Linked DNA regions of Homo sapiens: all the other regions are linked to region 1. The links come from fine-mapping of genetic effects on gene expression. A gene starts in region 1. Each other region holds a variant in brackets. All regions are shown on one strand. Distances are between the middles of the regions. Region 1 holds the start of CEBPA (CCAAT enhancer binding protein alpha). Region 2 has its middle 34 kb from the start of CEBPA. Region 3 has its middle 23 kb from the start of SLC7A10.

What was found. PIP is the estimated chance that this variant, and not a neighbour inherited with it, causes the effect.
Region 2: its variant is fine-mapped to the expression of CEBPA in whole blood (TOPMed, PIP above 0.99).
Region 3: its variant is fine-mapped to the expression of CEBPA in whole blood (INTERVAL, PIP above 0.99).

Annotation. Positions count from the first base shown.
Region 1 is chr19:33,299,501-33,305,134 of GRCh38, reverse strand. It overlaps CEBPA (CCAAT enhancer binding protein alpha), which reads left to right and starts at 2,601. Exons shown (of 1, transcript NM_004364.5): 1 at 2,601-5,201. The coding sequence starts at 2,721. The coding sequence ends at 3,797. It overlaps CEBPA-DT (CEBPA divergent transcript), which reads right to left and starts at 2,314. Exons shown (of 1, transcript NR_026887.2): 1 at 78-2,314. RefSeq lists silencers at 1,861-2,120, 2,201-2,770.
Region 2 is chr19:33,265,626-33,271,259 of GRCh38, reverse strand. No RefSeq gene overlaps it. Among named protein-coding and RNA genes, the nearest start is that of CEBPA, 34 kb to the left of the region's middle. The variant A/G (reference allele first, on the strand shown) is at 2,593.
Region 3 is chr19:33,246,044-33,251,677 of GRCh38, reverse strand. No RefSeq gene overlaps it. Among named protein-coding and RNA genes, the nearest start is that of SLC7A10, 23 kb to the right of the region's middle. RefSeq lists enhancers at 1-447, 448-1,331, 2,536-3,037 and a silencer at 2,095-2,144. The variant C/T (reference allele first, on the strand shown) is at 2,555.

The DNA of each region.
Region 1 (5,634 bases):
CACCTCCTTTCTGTGCATGCCCATGACATTGTTCTTCTGATAAGGCCACCAATCCTATCAAATTAGGACCCTACCCATATGACATCATCTCACTTTAATGACTTCCTAAAAGCCTTATCTCCAAATACAGTCACATGGGGGTTAGGCCTTCAACATAGGAATTTGGGGCAGGGACACAGTTCAGTCCATAACACCTCCGCAGACAAATCTGATCTCTGCCTCCTCCACAGCGCCACCTTGTTCAGGGCAGGACTTCTCTTCATCACAGCACATCCACCCTTGATTCCCATTTGTGCCTCGTGTGCATTTGATGAATGAATGAAGTCCCATCCCCTACTCCTTCTGTCTCCTCCTTCCTCCCAGCAGCCTCTGTGTGACAACTTATCCGTCTCTCCCACTGTCCCAGTTCCCAGAGGCAGGAGCCACCCTCTCATGCATCCCTGGGCTCTCGGCACCCTGCACAGGGCAGGCCCGGGTGGGTGAATTCTGGTTCAATTGTAGGAGGACCTGTGGCCCCTGGGGTTGGCGAACCCCGGGCCGGGAGTCCCACTCCTTGCCATTGTCGCCCCCACACATTCATCAGCCCCCTATTGGACAAAGTCTTATTCCCATTACTGAGGTTTCTTCCAGTCCTACGGGGCAGAGTTCCCGATCTCTGGGCAGGCAACAGCAGCTGTGCAAAAAAGGCCAGACATCGCCTTCCTCCCACAACTCCACAGGCCGGGAACCGTGCATGTACAGTGGCGTTTCTTTGTTCCTAGGTAGGAAAAGCCATTAGTTTTAGCACCGCAGAAAAAAACGCAAATCGCTCTTGGTGCTTTTTGATTTCCGTCCAGGTCTCCCTCCACAGGTGAATGCTATATGAATGGGTCCTGCATTTGGCTCAGCAAGCAGCTCTCCGGCTCACATCGGGATATTTATTTAACGTATCTGGTTTTTACTCCCTCCCGTCCAAAAGCGTCAAGCTAAAAATATCTTGTTTATGAGCTCTGGACCGAAAACGAAGCAGTTGGGCTATTAATCACTGGGACTATGTTGAATAGGAACTTGATTAAAGCGCAGTGTGCGTTGCCCAGATGAAACTGCTTCTTTACTGCGATCGTCGTGGAAGCTCGGGGCTCTCCAGCGGTGTTTTTAGCTGTGCCCCCTCCGGGGCTCCTGGGCGGGTCGTGGCGCCTTGCCAGGCCTAAGGCCACTGTCGGTGAAGGGGGTCTTCCCTCACCTGTAGGCAAGCGCGCCTCTAGCCGGGACGCAGGCGGCGTCAGGCCTCAGCGCCAGTGGCGAGGGGCGGCGCGGGCAAGGACAGGAGACACTTGAGGGCTCCCAAGACTCCATCTGGGCCCAGCTGACGGTCCGTAGCCGCCACCCCGGCCCCGGTAAAGAATGCGAGGGACGCACGTGGCTGGGGGTCTCGGTGGCAAGCTCCTTCCCCCGCCGCGGTGAGAGCATTAGCTGCCGCACTCAAGGGGCCCCAGGGCCTGGCCGCCTCGGTCCCTAGGATCCCGGGGACTACAGCGCCCGGCGAACCACTGGGCAGAGTTCTCCCTGTGCGTGCTCGGACCTGGCAGCCCGGCGGCCTGGACACCCTCGCTCCCGCCGTTGGCGCCCACCTGAATGGGGAGGCGGGGGAGGAAGCGGTGGCTTCGGGCCTCGAGGGCTGCGGCCCCCGCCTCGGAATCCCGGCCCCAGAGTTAAGTTTGTCTCCTCCCTCGGTGCGCCCCTCCCCGTGCTCGCCCCGGCGTCCAGCTCCGCTAGTCTGGGGGGCCCCGCGGTCCCGCAGGAAAAAAAATCGGCGACTCCACGCCGGGTAACAGCGCCGGCCCCGCGCGCCTAGCAAGCCGCGCGCTCCGACCTGGAGAAGTAATTATAAAGAAAGTTTTCCAGCCCGGGCGGATCGACCGGCCAGGTCCTCCAGGCTCCCGGGCCGAGGCCGCCTCCGCTCCCCGCGGGGTCCTAGCGCCCTGCGCGGCGCCGCCCATGGGACCCCGGCGTCCTCCGAGAGGTACCTCTGCGCGGAATCACAGGGGTAGCCTGGAGATCAGAGCTAGGAGACGCAGAGCCACCGCGCTCAGGACCTCTCCGCGCGTCCCAAACGGCCCCCCACCGGCCCCAGCCCCGCTGCTCTGCGCTGCAGCCTCCCCGGGACGCGGGTCCGGGACAGGCCTGGTTCTGGCTTTGAAAGAGAATCCGCGCCCCAGCAGCTCAAGACCAAGACTCGCCCTCCGCCCCCCACCCCTACCCCGTGCAGCCTCGGGATACTCCTGGGCTCCCGGCCGTGGCTGGATACGGGCGCCTAGGGCAGGCAGGAGGAGGGGGCCCCCGCTACCGACCACGTGGGCGCGGGGGCGACGGCCGGGCCGGGGGCGGAGCTTGGAGCGAGCGCCGCGGCTCTGCTGGGCGCGCTGGAGGCGGTGGGCGTTGCGCCGCGGCCTGCCTGGGGAGCGCGGCGCTGTGCCGCGCTGGTTCGCCGCCCCATGCCGGCCGCGCGCTAGGACCCAGCAGGCGCCGCGCCGCCGCAGCCCGGGGACAGAGGCCGCCTCGGACTCTAGGGGGCGACGCGGCCTGCCGGGTATAAAAGCTGGGCCGGCGCGGGCCGGGCCATTCGCGACCCGGAGGTGCGCGGGCGCGGGCGAGCAGGGTCTCCGGGTGGGCGGCGGCGACGCCCCGCGCAGGCTGGAGGCCGCCGAGGCTCGCCATGCCGGGAGAACTCTAACTCCCCCATGGAGTCGGCCGACTTCTACGAGGCGGAGCCGCGGCCCCCGATGAGCAGCCACCTGCAGAGCCCCCCGCACGCGCCCAGCAGCGCCGCCTTCGGCTTTCCCCGGGGCGCGGGCCCCGCGCAGCCTCCCGCCCCACCTGCCGCCCCGGAGCCGCTGGGCGGCATCTGCGAGCACGAGACGTCCATCGACATCAGCGCCTACATCGACCCGGCCGCCTTCAACGACGAGTTCCTGGCCGACCTGTTCCAGCACAGCCGGCAGCAGGAGAAGGCCAAGGCGGCCGTGGGCCCCACGGGCGGCGGCGGCGGCGGCGACTTTGACTACCCGGGCGCGCCCGCGGGCCCCGGCGGCGCCGTCATGCCCGGGGGAGCGCACGGGCCCCCGCCCGGCTACGGCTGCGCGGCCGCCGGCTACCTGGACGGCAGGCTGGAGCCCCTGTACGAGCGCGTCGGGGCGCCGGCGCTGCGGCCGCTGGTGATCAAGCAGGAGCCCCGCGAGGAGGATGAAGCCAAGCAGCTGGCGCTGGCCGGCCTCTTCCCTTACCAGCCGCCGCCGCCGCCGCCGCCCTCGCACCCGCACCCGCACCCGCCGCCCGCGCACCTGGCCGCCCCGCACCTGCAGTTCCAGATCGCGCACTGCGGCCAGACCACCATGCACCTGCAGCCCGGTCACCCCACGCCGCCGCCCACGCCCGTGCCCAGCCCGCACCCCGCGCCCGCGCTCGGTGCCGCCGGCCTGCCGGGCCCTGGCAGCGCGCTCAAGGGGCTGGGCGCCGCGCACCCCGACCTCCGCGCGAGTGGCGGCAGCGGCGCGGGCAAGGCCAAGAAGTCGGTGGACAAGAACAGCAACGAGTACCGGGTGCGGCGCGAGCGCAACAACATCGCGGTGCGCAAGAGCCGCGACAAGGCCAAGCAGCGCAACGTGGAGACGCAGCAGAAGGTGCTGGAGCTGACCAGTGACAATGACCGCCTGCGCAAGCGGGTGGAACAGCTGAGCCGCGAACTGGACACGCTGCGGGGCATCTTCCGCCAGCTGCCAGAGAGCTCCTTGGTCAAGGCCATGGGCAACTGCGCGTGAGGCGCGCGGCTGTGGGACCGCCCTGGGCCAGCCTCCGGCGGGGACCCAGGGAGTGGTTTGGGGTCGCCGGATCTCGAGGCTTGCCCGAGCCGTGCGAGCCAGGACTAGGAGATTCCGGTGCCTCCTGAAAGCCTGGCCTGCTCCGCGTGTCCCCTCCCTTCCTCTGCGCCGGACTTGGTGCGTCTAAGATGAGGGGGCCAGGCGGTGGCTTCTCCCTGCGAGGAGGGGAGAATTCTTGGGGCTGAGCTGGGAGCCCGGCAACTCTAGTATTTAGGATAACCTTGTGCCTTGGAAATGCAAACTCACCGCTCCAATGCCTACTGAGTAGGGGGAGCAAATCGTGCCTTGTCATTTTATTTGGAGGTTTCCTGCCTCCTTCCCGAGGCTACAGCAGACCCCCATGAGAGAAGGAGGGGAGCAGGCCCGTGGCAGGAGGAGGGCTCAGGGAGCTGAGATCCCGACAAGCCCGCCAGCCCCAGCCGCTCCTCCACGCCTGTCCTTAGAAAGGGGTGGAAACATAGGGACTTGGGGCTTGGAACCTAAGGTTGTTCCCCTAGTTCTACATGAAGGTGGAGGGTCTCTAGTTCCACGCCTCTCCCACCTCCCTCCGCACACACCCCACCCCAGCCTGCTATAGGCTGGGCTTCCCCTTGGGGCGGAACTCACTGCGATGGGGGTCACCAGGTGACCAGTGGGAGCCCCCACCCCGAGTCACACCAGAAAGCTAGGTCGTGGGTCAGCTCTGAGGATGTATACCCCTGGTGGGAGAGGGAGACCTAGAGATCTGGCTGTGGGGCGGGCATGGGGGGTGAAGGGCCACTGGGACCCTCAGCCTTGTTTGTACTGTATGCCTTCAGCATTGCCTAGGAACACGAAGCACGATCAGTCCATCCCAGAGGGACCGGAGTTATGACAAGCTTTCCAAATATTTTGCTTTATCAGCCGATATCAACACTTGTATCTGGCCTCTGTGCCCCAGCAGTGCCTTGTGCAATGTGAATGTGCGCGTCTCTGCTAAACCACCATTTTATTTGGTTTTTGTTTTGTTTTGGTTTTGCTCGGATACTTGCCAAAATGAGACTCTCCGTCGGCAGCTGGGGGAAGGGTCTGAGACTCCCTTTCCTTTTGGTTTTGGGATTACTTTTGATCCTGGGGGACCAATGAGGTGAGGGGGGTTCTCCTTTGCCCTCAGCTTTCCCCAGCCCCTCCGGCCTGGGCTGCCCACAAGGCTTGTCCCCCAGAGGCCCTGGCTCCTGGTCGGGAAGGGAGGTGGCCTCCCGCCAACGCATCACTGGGGCTGGGAGCAGGGAAGGACGGCTTGGTTCTCTTCTTTTGGGGAGAACGTAGAGTCTCACTCTAGATGTTTTATGTATTATATCTATAATATAAACATATCAAAGTCAATGTCGGTGTCTTTTTAAAACCAGAAAGAAGCTACTTCCAAGGTTGTCTGTGGGCCAGGTCACATTTGTAAATAATACAGCATTTTCCCTGGCGGCAATCCTGACTTTCATGAGCTCTCCATCCATCCTGAGCCCCTCTTACCCTAAGGGGGTGACTTACTTCCCCCAGGCAAGACAAATAAATAGCAGAGGACAAGGCTCCAAATGGAGTATGTCCAGAGCCTGAAGGCAGTCTCTTGGGGTCAGGGGAGGGGGCTGAAGGGGTTACTGGGCTGAGGCCTTGGCGAGGCTTCTTATCTGCCCCGGGGAGGAGGAGAGGGAGTCCTCTGCCTGAGGGGTAGGCCTGGCTAAGCAGCCCTAGGCTCAAGGAGCCCTTTGTGCAGACTTCCTTGCAAATCACCTACAGCTGCAGCCCTGGCCACTCACACACACCG
Region 2 (5,634 bases), 34 kb after region 1:
ACACACGGAGTTGGGGCATGGAGACCATGAAGTTGGAGGGGCACAGAGGAGAGACAGGAGCCTGACCTGGAATGCACAGATGGCTCCCAGAGGGAGTGATACTCAAACTAAGTCTTCTTTTAATTTTTAAAAGACAGAGTCTCTCTCTGTTGGCCAGGCTGGAGTGCAGTGGCTCACTGCAGCCTTGAACCCCTGGGCTCAAACAGTCCTCCCACCTCCACCTCCCTAGTAGCTAGGACTACAGGCATGCACCACCATACCCAGCTTATTTTTTAATTTTTTGTAGAGATAGGGTCTCACTATGTTGCCCAGGCCAGTCTTGAACTCCTGGGCTCCAGCAATCCTCCCAATGCAGCCTCCCAAAATTCTGGGATTACAGGCATGAACCGCCACATCTGGAAGCTAAGTCTTAAAATATAAGCAGAAATTATCCAGGAGGAAGGAGCAGGGACAAGCCTTGCAAGTGGAGAGAACAGCTTCAGCAAAGCTCAGAGGCTGAGAGTGGCAGGTCTGGACCTGGTTGGTGGGGAACTTGTAGAACCAGGTGATGGGGGGCTGTGGGCAATGAGAGCTCACCCTTCATCACCAGCCCCACCCACCACCTGGGTTTGGCCCAGGCTGGCAAGGGTGCCTGCCGAAGGCAGATATTGGCATCTGGCAGGGTGAGGTGGGGCATTGAGGGCAGAAGAGGGGGTGCCTTCAGGACCCCACCGCTGGCCAGCAGGGACACTGCAATTGGAGGAGCCAGATGGTGGGCAGGGCCTGGGGGCTCATCCCAGCAGGGCTGGGGTGCCAGGGCTGGGGCCGCCTGGTCCTGCCCCTGCCCCTGGGGCAGCCGGCAGAGTCCAGAGATGAGGCAGGCTGCCACAGGCGGGTAGCTGGCAACAGAGGCCTATTCTTCAGGATTTAAAAAGTCTCAAAAGGCGTCCAACTTTCCTTCGTTAGATGCTCCGGGATGTTTCCCCGTCAGAGGCTGCTCAAGATACCGGGCTGATAAGGGCCCGATTGAAGGAAGCTTAATTATGGCCCCGAGATGTTGGGGTAAACAGTCGGGAGTGTTTGTTTTACCGCCTCCTCTCTGTGCTAATGGGGGCACAAGCTAGGTGCCAGCTAGGGGGACCCAGTGACCCCAGGCTTTGTGGGTTCCCCTCACTGTCTCCCCATGGAGCGGGCCTTGGGGAGGGAGGCCGCTGGCCAGAGTTCGGCATCTCTGCAGTGTGGGTGCCAGGCTCCACAACCTCCTGCCCATTTGGCCACAGGGTACTCACCTGTCCGTGACAAGGATGGACATCGGGCATTAAAGGAGCTGTCCGTGTTGGTGCCTGGCATGGAGTGAACGCTGGGTGAATTCTGGACAGCAGCGGCAGCCTGGGGCTAGGGGCAGCTGGTAGCAGGAGTTTCCCTGGCGCTGTCCTGACCTTGACCCAGGCCACAACCCCCCAGAGGATGCATCTGGCTCCTCAACTCCATCCCGGGACCCCTGGATGGGCAGGGAGGTAGACCGGGGCTCGGCCTCTCAGCACCGTCCCCCATTTACCCCCACACCCCATCCCAAGGCCAGGATGTTCCTGGGGTGCCCAAGCCTGGTAAAGCACCCCTCCTGTGGGCATCACAACTCCAGGGGATCAGGGGCCACCATCCTGTGTGCCCTCCCTGGCGTGTGCCCACCTCCTACGCCCTCCCCCAACACCCACCACAGGCTCCCCCTGAGTGAGGAGTCCCAGGAGTAAGGGGAGCCCACTCTGTCACCCTGCACTCCCTCGAGGGCCCAGGGGCTCCAAAGGGCACAGCTCAGCTTTATTTAAGGGAGCAGCTCTGCTCAGGGGAAGGGGGCAGGGGGAGTGGGAGGAAAAGGATGGTGCCCCCTAGACATGCGTAGAGGCACACTCACCCAGACACACACACACACACACACACACACACACACACCCTCACCATGTACTGCCCAGGCCGGGCCAGGCCTTCTATTCCCTCGGCATCCAGGAATCTGCAGCTCTGCTCCCTGGCAGGCAGGGGTCACCGGCTCAGGGGGTCACAGGCTCAGGGCACCCCCCTACCCCGTGTGTGTGTATTTGCTCATCCACACACATAGGCCAACACGGTGCCCGTAAGTGTCTGCACCATGTGCCTGGGAGGGAGCAGGAGGAAGGGGAGACCAGGCAATCCATATTTTGGGTCCCTTGCGTGAGGCGGGAAGGGCACAAGGGGGCCGTTTAGGGTCACTCCAGCAGGACCCAGGCCCTCCGTGGCCTGGGCAGGTGCTCACATGACAGGCTCCATCGGAGGAGCTGTGGGAGTCTCTTGGGAAAGGGCCACAGTTCACCCTTTGGCAGATGTCACCGCCCCCAGAGGCTCGGAGCCCCCCTCGCTCTGTGGCTGTCCTTCAGGCTGGGGTGACCAGCCCCCCGCCAGGCCTTCAGCTGAGACCAAGAAGCCATTTTGGTCCGTGATGAGAAGAGGAAGTTCCTGCAGCCCCAAAACAGAAACAGGAAGCTGGGAGGGGGGCACAGGGATAGGGAACGGGAAGGGGACGCAGGCACCCGGCAGATGCACCCCAAATATGGGGCCTTCCTGGGGCCCACAGCAGCAGCC[A/G]TGTCTGGGTGTCTCTGCCCAGTCCCAATGCTGTGGGCCTCATCTGGGCCCAGCTGTGCCCACCAGGAGGGCAGACTCCCTGGGGACCTCAGATGCCCGCCCGCTCCCTGCCTGAGTGGCTCAGTTGCCCAGGCTTATCTGGCTCTGACTGAGAGGGCTCTGTGAGTGGCTGGAACCCCTCTGTCCACCCAGATGTGCCTGGCCACGTGCCTCTCCTTGGCCCCCAAGCGTAGCCCTGTGGGATTCTCCGCAGCGCTGGCCTGACTCCTTGACTCAGCAAGTCCAGGTCACCCTCTGTCCCCACCTCTGACCGAGCCCCCTGGTCGTGAGTCTGTGCGGCCGCCTGTTGGGTTCTGCTGTTCGCCACTGAGTCCCAGCCCTGGCCGTTTCCCCAGCTGTGATGTGACAGGGTCCCAGGCCCTCACCCAAACTTGGTAACAACACTCAGGACTGCCTGCTCAGCAGAGGTGGAGCCTGGACTCTGTTCCCCGGGGCCCCCTGCCTCACACTGTGTCCTGACCAGCCTGCCCTTTGCAGACCCCTCCTGCTCTGTGAGATGAGAGATGGAGTGTCTGAGAAACGTGCATGGGTCCCAGCCCGTTGTGCCCCCAAGCGGAGGGACGACAGGATCTAGAACCACGCACCAACCTCCGGAAGTGGGGCAGCTCCCAGTTCACGCAAGGGCGAGCTAGGCTGGGGCCACGTGGAAGGCAGGACAGCAGCTCCCACTCAGGGTGGGCATTGCCTGTGGCTCCTCGCTGGGTCTGGAGGCTCCTTCAGGAAGACTCTGGGGGTGAGGGAGCGGGGGCGGGAGTCAAGGGACCAGAGAGGCACATGTCACCAATTTCAGTTCTGCCCCAGCTGGCCTGAGGCAGCTCGGGACTTCCCAGGGTGGAAGGATAGGTCCGGGGGCCAGGCTACTTGGAGGCAGGGCCAGGTCTTGAGGACCCCCTCCCCAGCCCAGCTGTCTGCCGGGGAGGCAGCTCTGGGTTCCTGGAGTGGGCTGGCTACGGAGGTGTGTGCCTCCCTGGCGGCCCTCATCTCTCCCGGAGCCCTAGAGCAGGTCTTTCTAAGACTTCCCACTCATCAGCCCCGGCCCAAGATTATCACTACAAAAGACGTCCTTGGCCCACTGTCCCCTCAAAATGAAAGCTTTAAGAACAGCTGCCCAGAGGTGTCTGAGAAAAACTCCAGGATGAGAGTGAGGGGTACCAGGCCGTCAGCTCTCCCCAGGCTGAAGGATGAGGTGGAAACCACGAAAGCCCCCAAAACAAAGCCATCTTCTCCACACCTCCAGGCTGTTCCCTAAAGAAGGAAAGCGGGGAATGGGGTGGGGAGGGCGAGTGGAGCCCCCGCCTCGGGCGGTCAGCACCGGCGTCAGCAGGGAAGCAGGCCCCTGGCCAGGGAGCGCATCTGACCGGACCGACCGTGTTCTTGGGAGATCAGTTGTGAAACTTGCATCAAACCCCCAAACCACAAAAACGGCCAGTTTTCCCAGCTCTGTTCTCATGCTTCTCAGACCAGCCGAGGAGTCTTCAGCATCTCCAGCCGAGAGAAGCCAGGCCAGCTGCCAGCGCCGGGGGAGGAGAAAACCCCAAGTGCCTGGAGACCCGAGCCCCAAGTTTGCCTGAAGCACCCTGCTCCCTTCAACGAGCCTGGGAATGTGAGGTCTGGAGAAAGGGTGAGGCCTGGGCCGGCTCCACTGCACCTGGAGCCGGGTGCAGTGGCTCACGCCTGTAATCCCAACACTTTGGGAGGCCAAGGTGGGAGGATCGCTTGAGCCCAGGAGTTCAAGCACAACGTGGGCAACATAGCAAGACCCTGTCTCTACAAAAAATACAAATACTAGCCCAGTATGGTGACACATGCCTGTAATTCCAGCTACTCAGGAGGCTGAGGTGGGAGGATCACTTGATCCCACTAGTCTGAGGCCAGCTTGGGCAACATAGTGAGACCCTATCTCTATAAAAAATTAGCCAGGCATAATGGTGCTCACCTGTGGTCCCAGCTACTCAGAAAGCTGAGGCAGGAGAATCACTGAGTCTGCTAGTTTGAGACCAGCTTGGGCAACATAGTGAGACCCCATCTCTATAAAAAGTTAGCCAGGCATGGTGGTGCATGCCCGTAGTCCCAGCTACACAGGAGGCTGGGGCGGGAGGATCACTGGAGCCCAGGAGTTTGAGGCTGCAGTGAGCTGTGTTCGTGCCACTGCACTCCAGCCTGGGCAACAAAGCAAGACCCTATAATTAATAAATAAATAAATAAATAAATAAATAAATAAATAAATGGAAAAAGAAAACTGGAAATCAGAATAGAAGGACCCAGAAGCTGCCAGGGCCACCTCAGAAAGAATTCTGGAACACTGTTGCCTTGGGAAGATAACATCTGGCTGATGGAAGGTCAGAGGCAGGTTACCAGGGAAAGACTCCTGTTTGAAAAGAAGGTCACCGAGGCATCCCTCGTGTCTTCCCACTGCATTTGGTGCACAGCACATGACTCTGGTTCTCTCTCATTCAGGGCCTGGTTATAGCAGAAAGTCTGGCTCTCACTGAGCAAGGACCCAGATGGGGACACTCAGAGAGGTGGGAAAGAATCTCCCCCACCCCGCCAAGGAGGGATGCAGCTGTGCTGTAAGTGATGGTTAAAGCCATCTTTAAGAGAGGCAGGGCGCCATGGCTCACTCTTCTAATACCAGTGCTTTAAGAGGCTGAGGCAGGAGAATTGCTTAAGGCCAGGACTTTGAGACTAGCCTGGGCAACACAGCCATCTCTACAAAAAATACAGAAATTGGCTGGGCATGGTGGTGCCCACCTGTAGTCTCAGCTACTCAGGAGGCTGAGGTGGGAGGATCACTTGAGCCCGGCAGTTTGCAGCTGCGGTGAGCTATGATCGCACCCCAGCACTCCAGCCTGGGAGACAGAGTGAGACACTGTCTCTAAAAAGAAAGAGGGAAGAGAGAAGATGCCCGTAGCTGCTTTAGGTGACAAACGGCCTTGAAGCCGTGAAGGCCCACTCCCTTCCACAGGGAATGCAGCCCCATCT
Region 3 (5,634 bases), 53 kb after region 1:
TCCCCGGCGCCCTGATGGCCAAGATGGGGCTTCTGCCCTGACCAGCTCAGAGTCAGAGAACTGGGTCTGGCCTGGACGAAGAGCCTGGGGAAGGCGTCTCCATGGCCTGGAGCAGATGGTGGGTCTTGGCCCAGGCCAGGGCAGCCCCGATGGGCCAGGCCCCACACGGTGTGGGGGCCCCTTCATCTGAACTCCCTCATTCCAATCCAGGACATCAGTGAGGTGGGGCCCGCAGGCCACCCTAGGCCAGCGTGAGGGGAATATGGAGAGTCAAAGACGAGGGCCCCCTTCGTGCCCACCCAGACCCCAGAGGGTGCAGAGGGGGACTTGGCTCTAGAGGGGGCAGGAGGTTCCTCAGGGCAGCCCCAAGGAGGTGACAAGCCCCATGCTGGAGGCTTCAGGGGGCCGGCATCCAGCTCCCCGTCCATGAAGCCACCGCAGCCCTGCCCCCCGGGAATCCCCTGGAAGTGCTCGTTTGCCCTGCACATCTCCTAGGGCAAAGGGAGGGGCACCCAGCCCAGGAAGCCTGCCTGGAGCTCCAGCCTTGGCCAGCGGGGGCTGACGGGGCTGAGGGGTGGGGGAGGGGACGCATGGCTGAGGACCCTTGCAGGGTGGCTGACTGCGAGTCTATGTGGGTTTGTGCAGCCAACGAGGAGGCATGGTCCGTGAGTATAGGTGGACAGGGTCAGGGTGGCGTGTGTGTCTGCCTGTGTGTGTCTGTGTGTGTGGTGTGTGTTTGCTTGGTGTGTCTATTGAGTGTGGTGTGTGTGTTTATCTCTGTCTGTGAGTGTGGTGTGTGTGTCTGTATCTGTGTGTGTGGTGTGAGTGTGGTGTCTGTGTGTGGGGTGTGGGTGTGTGGTGTGTATCAGTCTCTGTGTGTGGCCTGTGTCTATCTGTGTCTGTGTGGTGTCTGTGTGAGGTGTGTGTCTATGAGTGTAGTGTGTGTTTATATGTGTGTGTTGTGTGTATGTGTGGTGTGTTTGTGTGTTTGGTGTCTGTATGCTGTGTGTGTGTCTGATGTGTATCTGTGTGTCTGTGTGTGTCTATGTCTATGTGTATCTGTCTACATCTGTCTGTGTGTGCCTCTGTGTGTGGTATGTGTGGTGTGTGTATCTGTGTCTGTGTGTGTGGTGTGTGTGTCTGCGTCTGTGTATGGTATGTATGTGGTGTGTATCTGTGTATCTGTGTGTGTGGTGTGTGATGTATGCATGTGTGTCTGTGTCTGTGTATGGTATGTATGTGGTGTGTATCTGTGTATCTGTGTGTGTGGTGTGTGATGTATGCATGTGTGTCTATGTGTATCTGTCTATGCATGTCTGTGTGTGCCTCTGTGTGTGTGGTGTGTGTGTCTATGTCTGTGTGTGTCTATGTCTGTGTGTGTTGTGTGTCTGTGTGTGGTATGTATGTGGTGTGTATCTGTGTGTGTGTGGTGTGTGTTATGTATCTGTGTGTCTGTGTGATATGTGTGTGAGGTACATATCTGTGTGTCTATGTCTGGTGTGTGTGTGGTGTGTATTTGTGTGGTTTGTGTGGTGTTTGGTGTGTGTGTTGTGCATCTGTGTGTCTGTGTGATATATGTGTGAGGTGTGTATCTGTGTCTCTGTGTGTGGTGTGTGCGTGTGGTGTGTATCTATGTGTGTGTGTGTGGTGTATGTGTGAGGTGTGTATCTGTGTGTCTGTGTGTGGTGTGTGCATGTGGTGTGTATCTGTGTGTGTGTGAGATGTGTGTGTGAGGTGTGTATCTGTGTGTCTGTGTGTGGTGTGTGCGTGTGGTGTGTATCTATGTGTGTGTGTGGTGTGTGTGTGAGGTGTGTATCTGTGTGTCTGTGTGTGGTGTGTGCATGTGGTGTGTATCTGTGTGTGTGTGTGATGTGTGTGTGAGGTGTGTATCTGTGTGTCTGTGTGTGGTGTGTATCTGTGTGTATCTGTGCGTGTCTGTGTGTGCCTGTGTGTTGGAGCATGGGTCTTCAGGAGCCCCCATCTGGGGCGGGGGTGTGGTGTGTTGTGCACAGCCCAGACCCCCTAGGACAGAGCCCAGACCCCCCAGGGCACAGCGAGGGGGACTAGGAAGTCCTCTAGGGCTCGTGGGACTAGAAGGAGGCTGAGACCCCCGGGTGGCACCGGGCCCCAGCCCTCGTGGGTGCCGGGCAGCGCGGGCACACGTCAGGACCCAGCTCCACGCCCTCTGCTCCTCACCTCCTCCTTCCCTCCAGATGTTGCCCAACAGCTGCGGGCTGGCCGCCCGGGGCGCACTTCCCCTCTCTGGCCAGCCAGGCAGGGGTCCTGGGCACCGGGTCGGAGGAGCTGGGTGCAGACCCGCAGCCTCCTGGGCACCCGCACAGTGCACTCTTCCGGCAGGATTTTCCTGGCAGCGGCTGGAATGTCCAGCCCCAGCTCCCAATGCGGTTCCATCTCCTGGGTCACCTCTGTGAGTCACCTCCCCTCTCCGAGGCTCAGTTCCCCGTCAGTGGCATGGTTGTCACACAGGCCCGGGTGGGGTCATCAAGTGCAAGGCTGAGCCCAAGGTAGGCAGAGAGGCTCCTTGGGCGCCCCC[C/T]GCCTGCTGCTTCTCCCACCTCCTCCTCTGCACCAGGCCCCCCGTGGCTGCTGGCTTTTCCCACCTGACTGGCCCAGGTCTCAAGTGGAGAAGAAACCAAGGCTCCCAGAAAGCCCAGAGGACTGCTTAGGGGAGAAGGGACGGCCAAGGTCATACCCGAGGCCAGTGTGAAATGTAGCCTTAGAATGACGTGTTGCTCTGTAGGGGCCTCCTGGACAATCCCCACCCCTGACACACACCCAGTGACCTCAGGGCCGGCTGCCCACACCTCCACCTGGCCTGGACTCGTCCAAACAGTCCCCTACCTGGGTTGGTCCCTCCTGGCTCCTGAGAAGGCCCCCGTAAGCAGAGAGGCGGGGCCCGAGGGGCTCTGCAGTGCGTCAGCACTCTGCCCTGACCCAGCATACCCAGAGGTCAAGGTCGAGTCTGATGCAGTCAGGAGAAGCGAGGACCCTGGAGTCAGGCGCACTGGAGCACACATGCGTGGCTCTGCCTCTGACTACCTTCTCTCAGCCTCAGTTTCCAGCATAGTCTCCACTCCAAGCACCCCTCACCTGCCTGTCCCATTTTAGTGGGGGGCCCTGACCATCCTCCCTCCTCTCCCTCTCCTTCCTCCTCCTGCTCCTCTTCTTCCCCTCCTCCTGGGACAGGGAAGTGTCTCACTGCTGGAGTCTCTGAGCCACTGCCCCTTGTCCTACCGCAGACCCAGTTGGTGCCAGCACAGGACTGCTGGAACCCATGGCCTTCAGAATGCCCCATGGGGGAGTGGAGGTGGAGGCATCTCTTCCTAGGAGCAGGAGCAAGGGAAGGCGGGCCAGGAAAGGGCCACATGGTGAGCTGACCTGGACACCAGAGGGGCAGGTCCTGTTGTCCTGGCCGGATTTCCTGAAGGCAGGGTCCCTGGTCAGTGGTGTCTGCCAGGGAGCGCAGGACTCCCGAGGCTGTATCCCAGGGTGGTTCGGGATGTGGGGCTCCCAACAGCACCACTGGGGTCCACCACGGTTTCTGCGAGACAGTGGGCTAGACCCTTATCTGGGGCAGGATGGGTGGGCAGGACAGGGACCCTCCCAGCTGAGCTGCAAGGAACAGGGCTCAGGAAGCAATCTGTACAGGCCCCTTTGCATTCTCAGGTCAGGGCTGCAAGGCTGCTGGGTCCCAGATCGATCCGGAGGGCCCAGAGCAGAAAGGGGTGGGCACCTTTGTGGGCCTTGGAGAGAGGATGGGAAGCCATCCTCTTCGCTGCTGGCTCTTCACTCATGGCTGGAGCTCCCAGGGCCCCTGGGCTCCAGAAGGAATCCCCGAATCCTTCATCACAGCCTGCTTGGCATAGGTGGCACATCCCCCACTGCATCCATCCCCCCCCCAACAACACCAACCACTGTGGCCCTGAGTGTGGAGTGAAGGGAAGAGGCCGGGCTGGTGGGGACTGATGGCCTCACCCTCTCCCTGCCCCTAACAGCCCAGGCCAGAGCCAGGGTGTCAGCCCCTCACCCACCCCAGAGACTAGAGCAAGGGTTGGTGGAAAGACCAACAGGTTCAGGGGTCACTGTGTGTGGCCAGGTCAGAGGTCAAAGATTTGCTGACAGCAGTCTTGGAGGTATTGATCTGGTGGGGGAGGGGGCAGAACTGTGTCCCCTGCCAGGGACTGTGGGCATGGGCTGGTGGTTAGCAAGCTGGATTCAGCAGAACCCACCACAGCTGGCCTCCTGGGCTGAGGGGATGGGGGTGTCAGCTGAGGACCAGTTGTCATGCTGAAAATGAGCTCAGGGCCAGCCCCGGGCTGACACTCCAGGATGGCCAGGGGACAACAGGGATCAGGAGGCCTCTGAGGCTCTCACAGGGTCGAGATGACTGAGGAATGAGGGGTTCAGAAACCCCAGCCTGCCAGCAGGGACAGAAGCCAGGAGGGAGCATCTTCAAAAGGGCAGGAGGCTATGGCTGGGCTGGCTTCCTGTGGGGGGGGGTGCCGACTGCAGCAAGCCTGGAAGGCCTCTCCCAGGCTGACCTGCTTCAGGGATGACCCCGGGTCCCTTCAATGCCTGACAGTGACCACAGCACCCACCTCGGCCCTCTGCCCAGTTTGCTTCTATGGGATACAGGAACCATCCCAGTGCCCCCCACCCAGAAAGATGCAGCCAGGGAGTCCAGCAAAGGCGCCATCCCCTGCCTCTGCCCAGAGCAGCTCCTGGGGGTGGTAGGACATTCCTGCTGCCCCTTCCTCCTCCCATACACATATGCCAACCAGTCCAGACAGGGGAGAAGCCTGGCCCAGAAGGGAGGAGCTGCCAGGACTGGGGAGGCAGGGAAGAGGCCCCTCCCCCAGCTGATCTCACCCCAAACACATTGGATGCAAAGGCGTTTCTCCATTCCTGGAGCCTGCCTGGGGAGGCAGAGTGGGGAGTGTTTGTCTGTGTGAGTGTGTGCACATATGTGATTTGTGCACACATCCCTGTGCATTTGCACGTGTGTGCATTCATGCGCTTGTTAGTGCATGTGCTTGCATGTGCATGTTATTTGTGTGTGTGTTCCTTTGTGCATGGAGTACATGTGTGAACATGTGTTCATGCACATGTGTATTTGTGTGTGCCTGTGGACACGTGTGTGCACGTTTGCACATACTCACATGTGTTTGGCCCCAGGTCTGAGGCTGGGCTGGCCCCCTTCCAGGTGCTGACTGGAGAGACACTGCAGCTGTCCCTTGGAATGGCTTGGCCAGGACTTAGCCAGAAACTCTTACCAGTCCCCATGGTCCACACCCTGGCAGCTGTCCTGAAACTGAAGGCTTCTGATCAGCCCTAGCCAGCTGGCGGCGTGGCCAGAGGGCAGCTCTGTCCACTGGGGGGGCATGTAGTGGCGCCTGGCTCAGAGCAGACTCAAGCTTGAAGTCACTGGCACTGAGGCACAGACACAGGCACATGGGCCCACTTGGGCCTGGAGCCCTCCTTGATTACACCAGGGCCTGGCAGAGGCTTCCTCCTAGAAGTGACCCCTACTGGGGACATCAGGTACTGCAGACTGGCTCTACTAGCCATTGTCATAAAAATAGGCCTCAGAATGTGGTTCCTCCCTGCAATGAGGAT